Homo sapiens: one gene and its partner. The protein of the gene in region 2 interacts with the protein of the main gene of each other region in a pairwise test. Each region holds a gene or a part of one and is shown on either strand. Other genes may lie near its edges.

The links. The genes of interacting proteins can lie anywhere in the genome.
Region 1: the proteins of RBM47 (region 2) and CELF5 interact in binary tests that used the Homo sapiens proteins (3 or more experiments, as listed by UniProt).

Annotation. Positions count from the first base shown.
Region 1 is NC_000019.10:3,219,911-3,227,671, forward strand, and holds the start of CELF5 (CUGBP Elav-like family member 5), read left to right. Parts: upstream 1-4,750; 5' UTR 4,751-4,829; coding exon 4,830-5,088; intron 5,089-5,367; exon of another isoform or gene 5,368-5,708; intron 5,709-7,761. UniProt on the Homo sapiens protein: RNA-binding protein implicated in the regulation of pre-mRNA alternative splicing. Mediates exon inclusion and/or exclusion in pre-mRNA that are subject to tissue-specific and developmentally regulated alternative splicing.
Region 2 is NC_000004.12:40,626,855-40,633,855, reverse strand, and holds the start of RBM47 (RNA-binding protein 47), read left to right. Parts: upstream 1-3,991; 5' UTR 3,992-4,460; intron 4,461-7,001. UniProt on the Homo sapiens protein: Single-stranded RNA-binding protein that functions in a variety of RNA processes, including alternative splicing, RNA stabilization, and RNA editing. Functions as an enzyme-substrate adapter for the cytidine deaminase APOBEC1.

The DNA.
Region 1 (7,761 bases), on a different chromosome or scaffold from region 2:
TGGCTCATAGGAGTTTGTGAGTTTCTCTTTTGATTTTGTTTTCTTTTGAGACAGAGTTTTGCTCTTGTTGCCCAGGGTGGAGTGCGATGGTACAGTCTTGGCTTACTGTAGCCTGGACCTCCCTGGGCTGAAGCGATCCTCCCACCTCAGCCTCCCAAGTAGCTGGAACCACAGGTGCCTGCCACCACACCCGGCTAATTTTTGTATTTTTTGTAGAGATGGAGTCTTGCTATGTTACAGCTCAGGCTAGTGTGGAACTCCCGGGCTCAAGCAGTCCTCCCAGCTCGGCCTCCCAAAGTGCTGGGATTACAGGCATGATTTTTCTTTTTTTTTTGAGACGGAGTCTCGCTCTGTTGCCCAGGCTGGAGTGCGGTGGCGCGATCTTGGCTCACTGCAAACTCCGCCTCCCGGGTTCAAGCAATTCTCCTGCCTCAGCCTCCTGAGTAGCTGGGACTACTGGCACACACCACCACGCCCAACTTTTTGTAATTTCAGTAGGGATGGGGTTTTGCCATGTTGGCCAAGATGGTCTCAATCTCTTGCCCTCATGATGTGCCTGCCTCGGCCTCCCAAGGTGCTAGGATTACAGGTATGAGCCACCACACCCGGCCAAATTTTAGACACGGGGTTTCACCATGTTGGCCAGGCTGGTCTCGAACTCCTGACCTCAAGTGATCCACTTGCCTTGGCTTCCCAAAGTGCTGGGATTACAGGCGTGAGCCACTGCGCCCGGCCAGGCGTGATTTTTAAAATTCTTATTAAGGACTCTCCCAGAACACCAGAGGCTCACGGGGCTCTGAGCATCCTGCTTGAGTCTCCATGGAGACGAAGCCTATGTCTCCTGGCCGACTCCACCAGCCCCAGTGCCACGCTGTGCCCGGCCAAGCCTCAGCTGAGTCTAAGCACCTGCGTCTGTGCTGGGCCGAGTGGCAGGATGTTGTGGGAGAACCCCTGACCCCTTGCCCAGCTCTGCTCGTCACCCAGTTCTGATGTTCTGTTCCATCTGGGGGTGGCCAGGAGGCTGCCAGTAACAGCAATGATGAATAGCCATTCACTGAGCTAAGCTCCCAGACACTCTGCTAAGCCCACATTTTAGTTCATGAGTCCACACCAGACCAGGGCCTTCACCATATCCTCTTTTTCTTTTTCTTTTTTTTTTTTTGAGATGGCGTCTCACTTGGTCGTTCAGGCTGGCGTGCAGTGGTGCGATCTCGGCTCACTGCAACCTCCACCTCCCAGGTTCAGGCGATTCTGCCTCAGCCTCCCAAGTAGCTGGGATTACAGGTGCATGCCACCACGCCCGGCTAATTGTGTATTTTTAGTAGAGATGGGGTTTTGCCACGCTGGCCAGGATGGTCTCGAACTCCTGACCTCAGATCATCTGCCAGCCTTGGCCTCCCCAAGTGCTGGGATTACAGGTGTGAGTCACCGTGCCCGGTCCCTCTCCTCTCTCTTTAGTCCTGCTTGGCAAATAAGGAAACTGGGGCTCAGCTGCCTGATGTGTGGGGAGATGGTATGGGATGGTGGGAAGTGTGTGTGCTCCAGAGTCTGGCTTCCTGGGTTTACATCCCAGCTCTCTTACCGTGTGGTCTTGCACCAGCCACTGGAGCTCTCTGGGCCTCAGTTCCCCCTCTAACGCGGGTGGACATTTCATACAAATGGCGTCACACGCTGTGTGGTCTTCTGTGTTTGACATCTTTCACCAAGCATGATGTGCTCAAGGTATGGCTTGGGTCAGAGCCTCATTTTTTTTTTCATGGCTGAGTCGTGTTCCATTGGCTGGATGGAGCACAAAATGTCCTCTAAAGCCAGGCATGGTGGCTCACACTTGTCATCCCAGCACTTTGAGAGGCTGAGGCGGGAGGATTGCTTGAGCCCAGAAGTTTGCGTACAGCCTGGACAACATAGCAAGACTCCATTTCTACAAAAAATTTAAAAATTAGCCAGGCATGGTGGCATGGACATCTGTGGTCCCAGCTACTCTGGAGGCTGAGGCAGGAGGATCGCTTGAGCCCAAGAGGTCAAGGCTGCAGCAAGCTATGATCATGCCACTGCACTCCAGCCTGGGTGACAGAGCGATACCCTGCCTTATAAATAAATAAATAAATAAAATTGTAAATTAGCCAGGTGTGGTGGTGGGAGCCTGTAATCCCAGCTACTCAGGAGGCTGAGGCATGAGAATCACTTGAACCCAGGAGGTGGAAGTTGCAGTGAGCCGAGATTGCACCACTGCACTCCAGCCTGGGCGACAGCAAGAGCCTGTCTCAAAAAATAAATAAAATAAGAATTAAAAATTAAATTTTAGGCTGGGCGCAGTAGCTCATGCCTGTAATCCCAGCACTTTGGGAGGCTGAGGTGGGCAGATCACCTAAGGTCAGGAGTTCGACACCAGCCTGGCCAACATGGTGAAACCCATCTCTACTAAAAATACAAAAATTAGCCAGGTGTGGTGGCACATGCCTGTAATCCCAGCTACACTGGAGACTGAGACAGGAGAATTGCTTGAACCCGGGAGGCAGAGGTTGCAGTGAGCCGAGATAATGCCACTGCACTCCAGCCTGGGTGACACAGCGAGACTCTGTCTCAATAATAAATAAATAAATAAATAAGTACGTTAATAAAATTTTACACTATTTGGGTGTGGTGGGGTGCAACTGTAATCCCAGCTACTCAGGTGGCTGAGGCAGGAGAATCATTTGAACCTGGTAGGTGGAGGTTGCAGTAAGCCAAGATCACACCATTGCACTTCAGCCTGGGCGACAGAGAGAGACTCCATCTCGAAAAAAATAAAAATAAAAATGAAAATAAAATTTTAAATGGGTGTAACTCTGTGGAGGGAAAAAGAAGGCTGAGAAAGGAGATAATGGTGACTGAGCGGTTTTAGATAAGGTAGATGGGGAAAGTGATGGGGAATTAAGGAATGAGCCACACATCATCTGGGGAGAGCACATCCCAGACAAAGGGTACAGCCCGTGCAAAGGCCCTGAGGCAGGACCGCACCTGACAAGTGAGAGGAACAGCGAGGAGGCCTGTGTAGCTGCAGCAGTGAGGAGGGGGAGAGAGGGAGCAGGGGAAGGTGGGGACAAGGCAGAACAGGACACGCAGAGCCTTGTGGGCCTCAAGAAGGACTTGGGCTTTAATTATGGGACATCTTTGGGAAGTGTTTTTTTTTTTTTTTTTTTTGAGACAAGATTTCATTCTGTCGCCTAGACCAGAGGCAGTGGTGCGATCCTGGTTCACTGCAGCTTTAATATCCCAGGGATCAACCGATGCTCCCACCGCAGCCTCCGAGTAGCTGGGACCAACGGTGCACACCAACCACTCCTGGCTGATTTTTTTTTTTTTTTTTCTCAAACAGAGTTTCACTCTTGTTGCCCAGGCTGGAGTGCAATGGCGCAATCTCGGCTCACTGCAATCTCCGCCTCCCGGGTTCAAGCGATTTTCCTGCCTCAGCCTCCTGAGTAGCTGGGATTACAGGCATGCACAACCATGCCTGGCTAATTTTTGTGTTTTTAGTAGAGACAGAGTTTTCTCCATGTTGATCAGGCTGGTCTCGAACTCCTGATCTCAGGTGATCCACCTGCCTCAGCCTCCCAAAGTGCTGGGATTACAGGTGTGAGCCATCGTGCCTGGCCTGTTTTCTTATTTTTTACAGCAATGGCGTCTCACTATGTTGCTCAGGCTGGTCTCCAACTCCTGGGCTCAAGTGGTCCTCCTGACTCTGCTTCTCAAAGTGCTGGGATTACAGGTGTGAGCCACCACGGCCAGCACGTATTATTATTTTTATTAATATTATTGATGAGTTTCATACGTAAAGGATCACGGGCACTTTAGAGCTGGGAGATACTTCAGTATTTCTCCTATCCTGTCATTATCAGTGCGAGCCAGTCTCCCTCCTTGTTGATGACATTATTGATGAGTTACATACTTAAAGGGCCAAGGACACTTTCTATGTGTAAGCACCCTATAGAACTGGAAGATACTTTTACCATTTCTCCTGTGCTGTCGTGATTAGTGGGAGCACTTTGTCTTGCTCTTGATTAATTATTATTAGTGTTGTTATTATTAGGTGTTTTTTTTTTTTTTTTTTACCAAGACGGAGTTTTGCTCTTGTTGCCCAGGCTGGAGTACAATGGCACAATCTTGGCTCACTGCAACCTCCGCCTCCTGGGTTCAAGTGATTATCCTGCCTCAGCCTCCCGAGTAGCTGGGATTACAGGCACCCCCCGCCACCGAGCCCAGCTAATTTTTGTATTCTTTAGTAGAGACGGGGTTTCACCGTGTTAGCCAGTCTGGTCTCGAACTCCTGACCTCAAGTGATCCACCCACCTCGGCCTCCCAAAGTGCTGAGATGACAGGCGTGAGCCACCGCGCCCAGCCATATTATTAGTGTTATTAATATTATTGATGAGTTACCTACTTTAAGGATCACGGGCGCTTTCAACGACAAGCCCCCTACATTATCCCAGCAACTTTTGACATTCTTCCGGCCGATGCCCTCCGCGGGAGCCGGCGGGGACCCCTGGGAAGCCGGCTAAGGCCCGTCCCGCCCGCAGCTCCGCCCTCGCCCACCCGTAGGCGGGGCCCGGGGCCTTCCGGCCTCAGTTTCCCCCCGCGGCCCGGGGATGCGGGGAGGCGCCGGCTGCCCCGCGCGGCGCGGCCGCCAGGGGCCGCTGCGGAGCCGCCTTTGTGGTCCCGATGCCGGGGCGGGCGCGGGCGGGAGGAGGGCGCGGGGGCCCGGGAGGGAGGCGGGAGGCGCGGCCGCCGCTCCAGCTGCGAGTCCGCCCGCCGCCCGCCGCCGCCGCCGCCGGCTCGGTCCCGCGCCCGCCATGGCCCGCCTGACGGAGAGCGAGGCGCGCCGGCAGCAGCAGCAGCTCCTGCAGCCGCGGCCCTCGCCCGTGGGCAGCAGCGGGCCCGAGCCCCCCGGGGGGCAGCCCGACGGCATGAAGGACCTGGACGCCATCAAACTCTTCGTGGGCCAGATCCCGCGGCACCTGGACGAGAAGGACCTCAAGCCGCTCTTCGAGCAGTTCGGCCGCATCTACGAGCTCACGGTGCTCAAAGACCCCTACACGGGGATGCACAAAGGTGGGCGCCCGGCCCCCTCCCCCCTCTCCCCCTCCCTCCGCCTCCCACCCCACCTTCCGGCATCTTCTCTCCCCCATCACCATCCCTCCTCTGCTCACCTCCCTCCTCTGCCTGCCTCTGCCGGAGCATCGGTTCTTACCCCCTCCCTCCCACCCACCCCTCCTCCCCTCTCTGGGGGTGCAGCTGACAGATCCGAGCGGGCCCCCTCCCCTCCTCCGCCCCCTCTCCCTCCCTCCCCACCTTCCGGCATCTCCTCTCTCTCTCCCTCTCTCTCTCCCTCTCTCTCTCCCTTTCTCTTCTCTCCCATCTCCCTCGACCTCTCATCCTTCCCCCCACAGCACCCTCTCTCTCCCTCCCTCCCTCCCTCACCCTTCCATCCCCCAGACCCCCACCCCTTCCTCCCTCCCTCACCCCACTCTTTCCTGCCCGTTTGCCAGGGGAGCCTCGGGAACGCCGGCACCCCTCCCTGCCCCCCCACCCCCATTCATTCAGCCTCCCCAGGCCCCGTCGGGGAAGTTTGCACCTGCGGACTCCATTGCTTTGGTTATTTTCACAAAGCCAGGCCGGCGGGGCAGGTCCGGCCGCGGGGGACACGGATGCCCAGGACCCCAGGCTAATCGGTAACTACAAAGGAAGACGGGTTGGGGGCGCCCGGCTCGGGGGGACGCGCCCGCCTCGCCTGCCTCGGGTGGCGGAGAGGCTCCCGTCGCTGCCCACCCCCTGGCCCCACCACCTCCGCGTGGATCAGCATTCTCTCCTCCATTTCTCTGCCCTCCCCCTCCCCCGCCTCCACCTTGGGCTCAAGTTGAAACTGGCCGAGCCTCTTAGCAATGTGTTGGGGTCTCAGGCCCAAGACAATGAGCTTGGACGTGTCCATCTGGGCAGAGCCCAAATTCTGGGGTGGACAGGGAGGAGGAGGGAGGCGTGGGCGGCCTCAGGCCTGTCTGCCTCCCTCCCACTGGATTCTCCCTCCGATGGCATCCCGGGTGGGGGTGTCCGGCAATTGTATCCCCAGCCCTTGGTTCCCATCATGGGCCCAGCGTCTGAATTGGGGTGGCTTTGACAGCCTTCCGGTCAGGTGTTGGGGACTGGGGGTGCCACTTCAAAGGCCTTGTGCTGGACACCCCCGGCCCTCCCCCTCCCATCCTCCAGGAAGACCCTGGAGAGGCCTTGGGGAAGGACCGGGGCCCATGACCTATTTTACACCCACTTTTTCCCCAGCGCTGCGTGCCCGGTAAGCATGAATGCATGTTTATTGAATGAATGAATTGAATGAATGAATGAATGAATGAATGAATGAATGAAGGGGTTCAAGAAGGCCCTAGGGAGGGTCTGGTGAGATGGGGCCCAGGCCTGTCACTTCAGCTAGACCCTCCAGCTGGTTATCTTGAGGGAGGAAAGAAACCCCTCCCCATTCCCCATCTCTTTTCAAAACCAACCATCACACACACACACACACACACACACACACACACACAAAATTGGGCCTGAAAAATCTAACTCCTCCATGTGGCCTAGGAGGGCAGAGGGGCTCCCATGCGGCCCCCATAAGTCAATATCTGGAGTCCAGAGGTGATAGGTGGGCTTTTCCCACACGCCCCCACCCCTGGGTACACCCAAAGCACCCATTTCTAGAAAGATTCCCGTGGGAATGGGGGAGTCCACATGGCCCCCCAAACGGTTGCATTGAAAGGCCGCTGGTTGAGCTCTAGGTCGGAGAGACAGGTGGGGGTGCAGGGACTGGAGCATCCTGGTGACTCTTCTTCATCTTTTTTTTTTTTTCCTTCTTATTTTTAAATCTCTGGGAAACCTGGGCACGGGAGAAGTGAGGGGTGAAGGAGGGGCTGGGGCTGGGTTTTCACCTGGCCCTGAGCCTCAGTTTCCCTGCTGTCAACAGAGCAGGACCATGACGCATCCCCAGTTCTTTTTTTACAGGTTGGAGAATGTTGGGGTCCCTGGGGTACCTCGGGGGTATTTCCCATTTGCGGGCTTTCCTTGGAGGGTGAGAATTGAGAAGCCGTGTGCACGACAGCCGGCAATCACCCTCCACTTTTTAGGGGTCCCAGGTCCGTCTGTGTGTGAGATACAGGGGCTTCACCTCGTGTCGAAAATGGGTCCAGTACCCTCGGGGAAGTGAATCCCCACCTGCGTGGGGCCTGGCTGGACTTCACCTGGTCTTTGCCTGCAGGTGCTTGGCACGAAGGGGTGGGGGGGTGTCTTCAGAATCAGCATCTGTGATCCAGGTTTGCGTTTGGGGCTCAGCTGTGTGACTTCTGGCTAGTGACTGCCCCTCTCTGGGCCCTCTCTGGGCCTTGGCTGAAGGGAGGTGGAATGGTGAATGGGAAGTCAGGATTTTTGGGGAGAGGAGTGAGTTCAGACACCTGCCACCAACATGACCTTATTAGGGCTGTTTCTGGGAGCCCTGGCGTGGTTTAGTGTGCCTGTTCAGAGTGGCAGGGCCTTGGGGATATGGACCCCAGGCCTGGAGAGAAATCCCTTTCCCTGGATGCCCGGCGGGGCCCATGAGACTGGGCACAGGAGATCTGTAAGGAGTAGAGTGGGGTGGGATGAGAACACCCTGGAGGTGCACCCGGCTCCTGGTACAAGCCCGGAGGGGGTCAGCTGGTACCACCTCTAGCCCTTCCTTGGTGTCCAGGCTGCAGGGACTTGTTT
Region 2 (7,001 bases):
TGGAAGGTGGAGGTTCGAGCTAGCCAAAATCGCACCATTGCACTCCAGCCTGGCCAACAAGGGCGAGACTCTGTCACAAAAAAAAAAAAAAAAAAAAAAAAAGGCCAGGCGTGGTGGCTCACGCCTGTAATCCCAGCACTTTGGGAGGCTGAGGCAGGCGGATCACGAGGTCAGGAGTTCAAGACCAGCCTGACCAACATGGTGAAACCCCCTCTCTACTAACAAAAAAATACAAAAATTAGCTGGGCGTGGTGCTGCGTGCCTGTAATCCCAGCTACTCGGGAGACTGAGGCAGGAGAATCACTTGAACCTGGGAGGCAGAGGTTGCAGTGAACCGAGATTGTGCCATTGCACTCCTGCCTGGGCAATAGAGTGAGACTCCATCTCGGAAAAAACAAACAAAAAGAAATCCAGAAAGATAGCTGTTATTAATTTATAAATGAAGACACTAAAACTCAAAGCGATTAAGCAATTTGTCCAACATCACATAGCTCAGAGAAGAAATTGAGATTCAAACTCAAATCTATTGGAAACTAATTTTCATGCTGTTTGCACTCACTCCGGAACATTGCCTCATAGGCAGAAGGAAAAGAAGAAAACAGAAAGTAAAAGACAAGGGTCTAGAAAACTAAAATGCCCCAGGAAAATGGAGTGGGCCTAAGAATTAAAATAATTATAATAATAATAAAACAGGCGCCAAGGTTAGCCACAAAAAAGAAATAATAAAAGTTCACATTTGTTTTGCTATAGCCTGCCACTTAGAAAAATCTGTTTTATTTTTGTCATGTTCCCGGGGAGGGCAGTGAGAAATAGGAACAAGAATTATACCCATTTCTCCAGCGGATATGGAGTGCAAAAAAAGAAAGAAAGGATATACCCATTTCATAGGTGTCAGTGGGCAAAACTGAAGAAGGAGCAGGCAACATCTGAAAAAGGGTAACTGACCCTCTTTGAGATGAGGACTCACTTCCTGAAGTGGAACCTGAGCCTCCTCAAGCAGGAGTTTTCCCTGACTCCAGTTCCAGTTCACCTGGAGTCACTGACCTCCACACTTTCAAATTTCTTTTATTTTTATCATTTTTTAAATTTATTTATGTGTTTATTTTTTTTTTTGAGACGGAGTCTTGCTCTTTCGCCCAGGCCGGAGTGCAGTGGCGCGATCTCGGCTCCCTGCAAACTTCACCTCCCGGGTTCAAGCCATTCTCCCGCCTCAGCCTCCCGAGTGGCTAGAATTACAGGTGCCTGCCACCATGCCCAGCCAATTTTTGTATTTTTAGTAGAGACGGGGTTTCGCCACGTTGGCCAGGCTCATCTGGAACTCCTGACCTCAGGTTATCTGCCTGCCTCGACCTCCCAAAGTGTGGGGATTACAGGCGTGAGCCACCGTGCCCAGCGAGAATGTCCCCTCTAGAATCCTTCAGCTCAGACAGTCTGTGACAGCGAGCCTTTTTTGAGGCCATAATCCAGATACTTCTGGAAAAGAAAAGAAAATTTCAGGCTAATATGGAGCTGGGTTTTTTAGTTGTCTTAAGGGGGTGGAGCCGTTGTTTGTGCCTGGCAGCATCAACCCTTAGGTCTGGTGAGGGAACTTAGCTAAGAGAGTTCCCACTGCCTGCTGTTCACAGTACATGCTGGCTGGTATCGACAAAGAATGAACCTAAAACACAGGAAATGTTGAATTTGTCTGGGTTAAATTTTGCCTCATGAGAAGATAAAAGATCAGAAGGATTTAAAATGTTCCAGAATGCTTTGCTGGTTTTAAGGAATCATTTTTCCCAAAGGTGGCAAATGCTGCTTTTTAAATTTATGGTTTTCTTGATACCCCTTCAGCCTTTGTTTCTCTCTCTTAGGACTACTACTTTTTAATTAATTTTCACTTAACTTTCCAATACTGATGAAATAAAGAAAAATGAGGGTTATTTATATATATTTTAATAAATCCAGTTTGATTTTTCAACTTAAAAAAAAATTAACTAGAACTGAGAACCAGTCCTGGCCTCACCACCTTGGACTTACACTTAACCTGTGTGATCTCAGTGTCTTCATCTGCAAAATGGGGACAAAATAGCTCATAGGATCATTTTGTAAGGATCACATAAAGTAAGAAGGGTGAAAGTGCTCCATAAAGTAGAAAGGGCCTCACTAATGGAAAGGGATTATGATTTCTTTCTTTAAATGTGAAGTTAAATGGAGGATAAAGGGTGGAGGCACTGATAACATTTTAGCCTTCAATAATCACTTTTTAATATTTATGAGGAGTTTCAAAATCATTTCCCTCTCTTTCATACTGCTTTTCAAACGGCAAGGGTCATTATTTGTCCGGCCCAGTCTGGGATAAGTAACTATCCCAGGGTAAGACACCAGGTCAAGTGCCAAAATACAAATGAGAATTAAGCATAGCAGATGGGTGATTGCTGGGCCCTGAATTTCCTTCCCGTTAGTGAGCTTCATGGAATGCAGGCAAATTTATCTCCATTTCTGTTGTCAATCTTGTAACTTTTAAGTGAGATGAAATTCAGTTGGCTACCCTTTACAGGGACTTTATTTCCCATTGTATTCAAGACTGTCAGCAATGAATATAAACTGTTTGTAAAAATCCCATCGTTAGAATCTTCCAGAAACTGAGGCTGGGAGAGATTAAATATCTTGCTCATGGCCTCACAGCTGGTGAGTGGCAATGCTGGTGCTACAGCCCATGTCTAACTCTGACCACACACTCTTCTTCAGAAAAAAGCCATAATGTAAATAATAATAAGAAGAATAACAACAACAATAACGGCAGCTAACACTGTGTGCTAGGCACCGTTCTAAGCTCTTTGCATGTGTTAACTCAACCAGCAAAGAACCATTTTTGGAACATTCTTTCACTAAAGTAGCCCGGTATTTTTTTCTTTCCCCTCAGCTGAATGACACTGCAACCCGAAATCACAACTCTGTTTTAGGTTCCTGGTGGTGCCTGCTTCCTCTTCTAGTTTGTTTAGTCACAGAATTCGATTCCTGTTGGCCCATTCCGCGCCTACAAACAGGCTTAGCGCTCCACTGAAATGCGGGAGGCTCCTTAACTCTTGTATAAACAGGTAAGGCGGAGGGGGTGGGGCGCGGATTGCGGACATCTGGGTTTCTTGGGAATTGGGATGGGGTGGGGGTTCGAGCCAACTCCCCAGAGAGCAGGCAAGGTGAAGCGAGGGCTTGGCTGCTGTTTCTAAATGCAGTGTTTTTTTGTTCCCTTTCTAGAAACCCTCCGTAACTCTAGGTCAGAGCGCACTAAAATGAGCCACTTCTGAACGAGCAGCGCCCAGGCCCCAGGCCCTGCTGCGAAGGCCCCGGCAAAGGTCAGGGCCCCGTCCGCGTGACGCTCCTGCCTGCGCGCGGCCAAGCCATGCTCGGCCCCAGGTAAGGACGCCCCGGGAGCTCGCCCCGGGAGCTCTCCCCGGGCACGCGGGGGTCGCAGAGATCCCACCTCGTCCAGCGACTTGTTTATGGGGGGAAGAAGGGGAGCGGGGCGGTTCCGATCGGCTTGAAATTCAGCAGCAGGTTCCTAATTTCTCCAACGTGGTTCTGGCTGGGTTTCTCGGAGCAGCCCGAAGGGGGCCGAGCGTCTGACTCGGACAGATGCCCCCAGGTGGAGCAGGTGCCACTTCTGGGTGTCTGAAAGGCATGTGACTTTTGGGGCGGGGAGAGAAGTCCGTCTGGTCAAGTCCCCCAATCTCTGCCATCAAGGCCGATTTTCTTTGAACCTTCAGCAAAGGTATCTGCGCTCCTAAAAAACAACAGGAATGTGGCACTGGCCTTTAGCCAGGGGAGGCTCAGCCAGCAGGATAAAATTTCAGGGCAGATTTACGGGAAGTTGCCGGTGTTGGGAGTAAAAATCTGGTTTGGTGAGTTTAAGGGAAGGGAGTAGACGAGAGACAACCTTGCTACTGTGAGGCGGATGGCCTCGGCAGGGGGCGGGCGGCGGGAGGAGAGAGGGAGGGAACCGGGAAGGGCCCGCAGACTAGACGCTGAGCGCTCCCGTGCGCAGCGCCCCACGCAGCCGGGACGCGGCGCCGCTCTGCGGGTGGAACCGCCGCGCGCTCCCGGCCTCGGGAGCTGAGCCCGAGAGAACTTCGCTGCCTTCGGGTCGCCGCTCCCGCTTTCCACTGTGGAATGTGCAGCTTGGGATAGAGAGAAACCAGGGTTTGGGGAGCGGTCCTCCTGGAGACTTTCTCTCTGCAAGTCTCCAAGGTTAAGCAATTCTGACCCACTGGAATTCCCAGAGCCTGGGAGTTAAGCCTAAAACGCTCTGTTGCTTTAAGCGGCGCGGTGGGGAGTCGCTGGACACTCCTTATTTTGGTTTTACATTAAAAAGAAGGCGGACGAGAAGATGTTGTAGGTGACTTCCTAGCTGTGTTAAGTTGCTCCTGGGCTGTGAATGGTGTTAATTTCTGAAGTGGGCGGCTCCAAAAACTTAACAAGGAAAGGTAAGGTGGTTTTTGGTAGTCCTTCTAACTATTGTCCCTTAATCTTACATTTGGGTCCCAATTTTTGAAGTGTATATTTTTTTCTTATTCTTCTCTCTTTAGCTCTTATCCCTCATGCTATCACTCATCTTCTGTCTCTTGGTATATTTAGTGGGAAATAAAGGGTTTATAAAACGGTTTTAAAAGGGTCAACCTCTGGGAAGGCAGATAATCATATACAGTCAGTCCCATCGTGTTTCCTGTAGTGATGAATCTTTTCCCATAAAAGAAACTGATTTTTTTTTTTCACTCTTGAAAATACATGATTGGACCGCCCAGAAGCACAGGTGACTTTAGACTCAGATTATTACAGTGAGACTGAGGAAGCGTCCTGGACAGGAGGCATCTCATTTAAGTGTTAACCAAGGCAGAGGGGGGTCTTCCTGCAGTAATTTACGTCTGAAAGTAACACTCGGTAGAGGTGTAGTTGTTTCAAATTAAAAATTCAGCCTGTAGAAAAGGGTAGGACTGACGAATTATGACATCTGACAAATTAGCAGTTGACCGGATATTTAAGAAATCAGATAAAATAAATGGAAGTGGAATTTTTCAAATAAATGACTCATTTTTTAATTAGGTAAAAGTTCAGCCACTCTTGGGTACTGTCCCAAGGCATAAGTGATAGGAAGATACCATCTTCAAGGTACTTACAGGCCATTACCGACCTGAACTAAAAATCAAACCTTTTTTTTTTATCTGGTGGTATTTTAATGACTCACTGTTTTCTTTAGCAGGAATATAGATTTTAAAATGTATTCTTTAAAAGTTTTAAGGCAAGGTCATACGAATTTCTCAGGGGAGGGAAAGCAAAGGGTTGACAACCCAACATGAAGGAGTTGCCGAAGTTTTGAGCTCAAAAGGTTGGCAATTAGATCCAGAGCATTTGAGAATTGCAGGTGCCGATTCTAAAAGGTGAAAGGTGGTCAGCGGCGTAACACACAACCTCTAGATAAACCAAAGTACTCAACCTAGAGCATAAGAAGAGATCACTTTGTGGGAGTTTGTGTTGCTATTAATTTAAACAATGATCTTTGTTAGATCAATGACTTGAAGTCTTGGAGGGAACTAAAATCAACCCAGTCTGAAAGGAAAACAGAAGGAAAAAAAGAAAGGAGGAGATGGTTTGGTTTTTAATATTTTTTTCTGGTCTGCTTTACCCTTCACCTTGTTCTGATATACACACTGTTGGCCTCTTTGACTTAATTATTGCATGCTGGAAGGATGGGGTCTCAGAAATTTCCCAAGCACCTAGCTTCATTATTAACTTTCAGTATGTGTCAAATGAAGAAATAAGCCTAGCTGTGCCGTCCTTTACCTGGCTAGGTAGGCCATGCTTTAAATTAATTAGATCAAGATATTCTGAATATCAATCAATTATTAAAGATTTATTATCTTCCTCTTGGTTTTTGCGTTTACAGAAGTTTGTAGGATTGAGAATTCATCATCATCATTTTTTTTACCAATCTCTATATTTTTAATAGTCAACATATTTATTTTTGATTCCCCCACTGTGCTGCTTTAAATTAAATTTTGAAAGAATTCTGCCCAAAGCAGTAGTGATACTGAGGATGAAATAAAGACAGAAAGCAAGGGAACTACATGCTTCTGGACACGTGTTCTATAGACTTGCTCTAACTAGTGTTAAAGACTACTCATTTTTTTCCTCACATGATAAGAACATTCATATTAGACTATTTGGTTTACTGTTCTAGGTAATGATTTTTTAAAAGATTGGGTTAAGATGAAATTATTTTCTTACAAAAGGATTTAATTTGCTTTTCAAATTCTGCTCTGAAGCTCAAGATTAAATCATGTCCCAAATGACTGAGCTTTCATTGCTATAGAAAAGCATTTGGCTATTTCAGTAAGTTTCCGCCTCCACATCTTAAGTCTCTTGATTTTTCAGAAAAGGTCAGGGGAGTGGATATAAGCGTGAAGGGAGGGAGATTTTCTTAAAATTGGACCCAGGCTCAAGTGAAACTGTGATTAGGTAATCCCAGAAGATACATAATTCTGGGGAAAAAAAACTCTGAAGAGGGTTTAAGTTTGGGATTCATGAGACTTAGAAAAAGGGTATGCTTAGAATAAAGGTAGAATTTGTGTGCCAAACTTTGATGAAGTTACAATGAAGACATTAAATGCAGCTTTAAGTGCTTGTCACCGTGATTCCAAGCTACAGGTTATATTGCAGTGTTTCAGCTACTGGCCTGATTAGGAGATATATTTTCTTTCCCTCTTGGGAACAGTCTCTGTGTCTTAATGATGATGCTGATTTTCTGGTTTAATATCATAAAAGGTGTGTGTTGGTCCCAACATTACTGCTCCAAGTAGTGGCTTCAAAGAGCAACTGGATAAAGATTTTCAATAATAGCAATGCAGAGATGACCTGGGTTTCAAGATAGGAGGCCTTTGGAGCCTTCAGAGAATTGTCATAGAAATGATCAGTAACTAATTGCTCAGTTGCCACCTCAAGTTGTTGTTTCCATCTTATGCGGGAGAGAT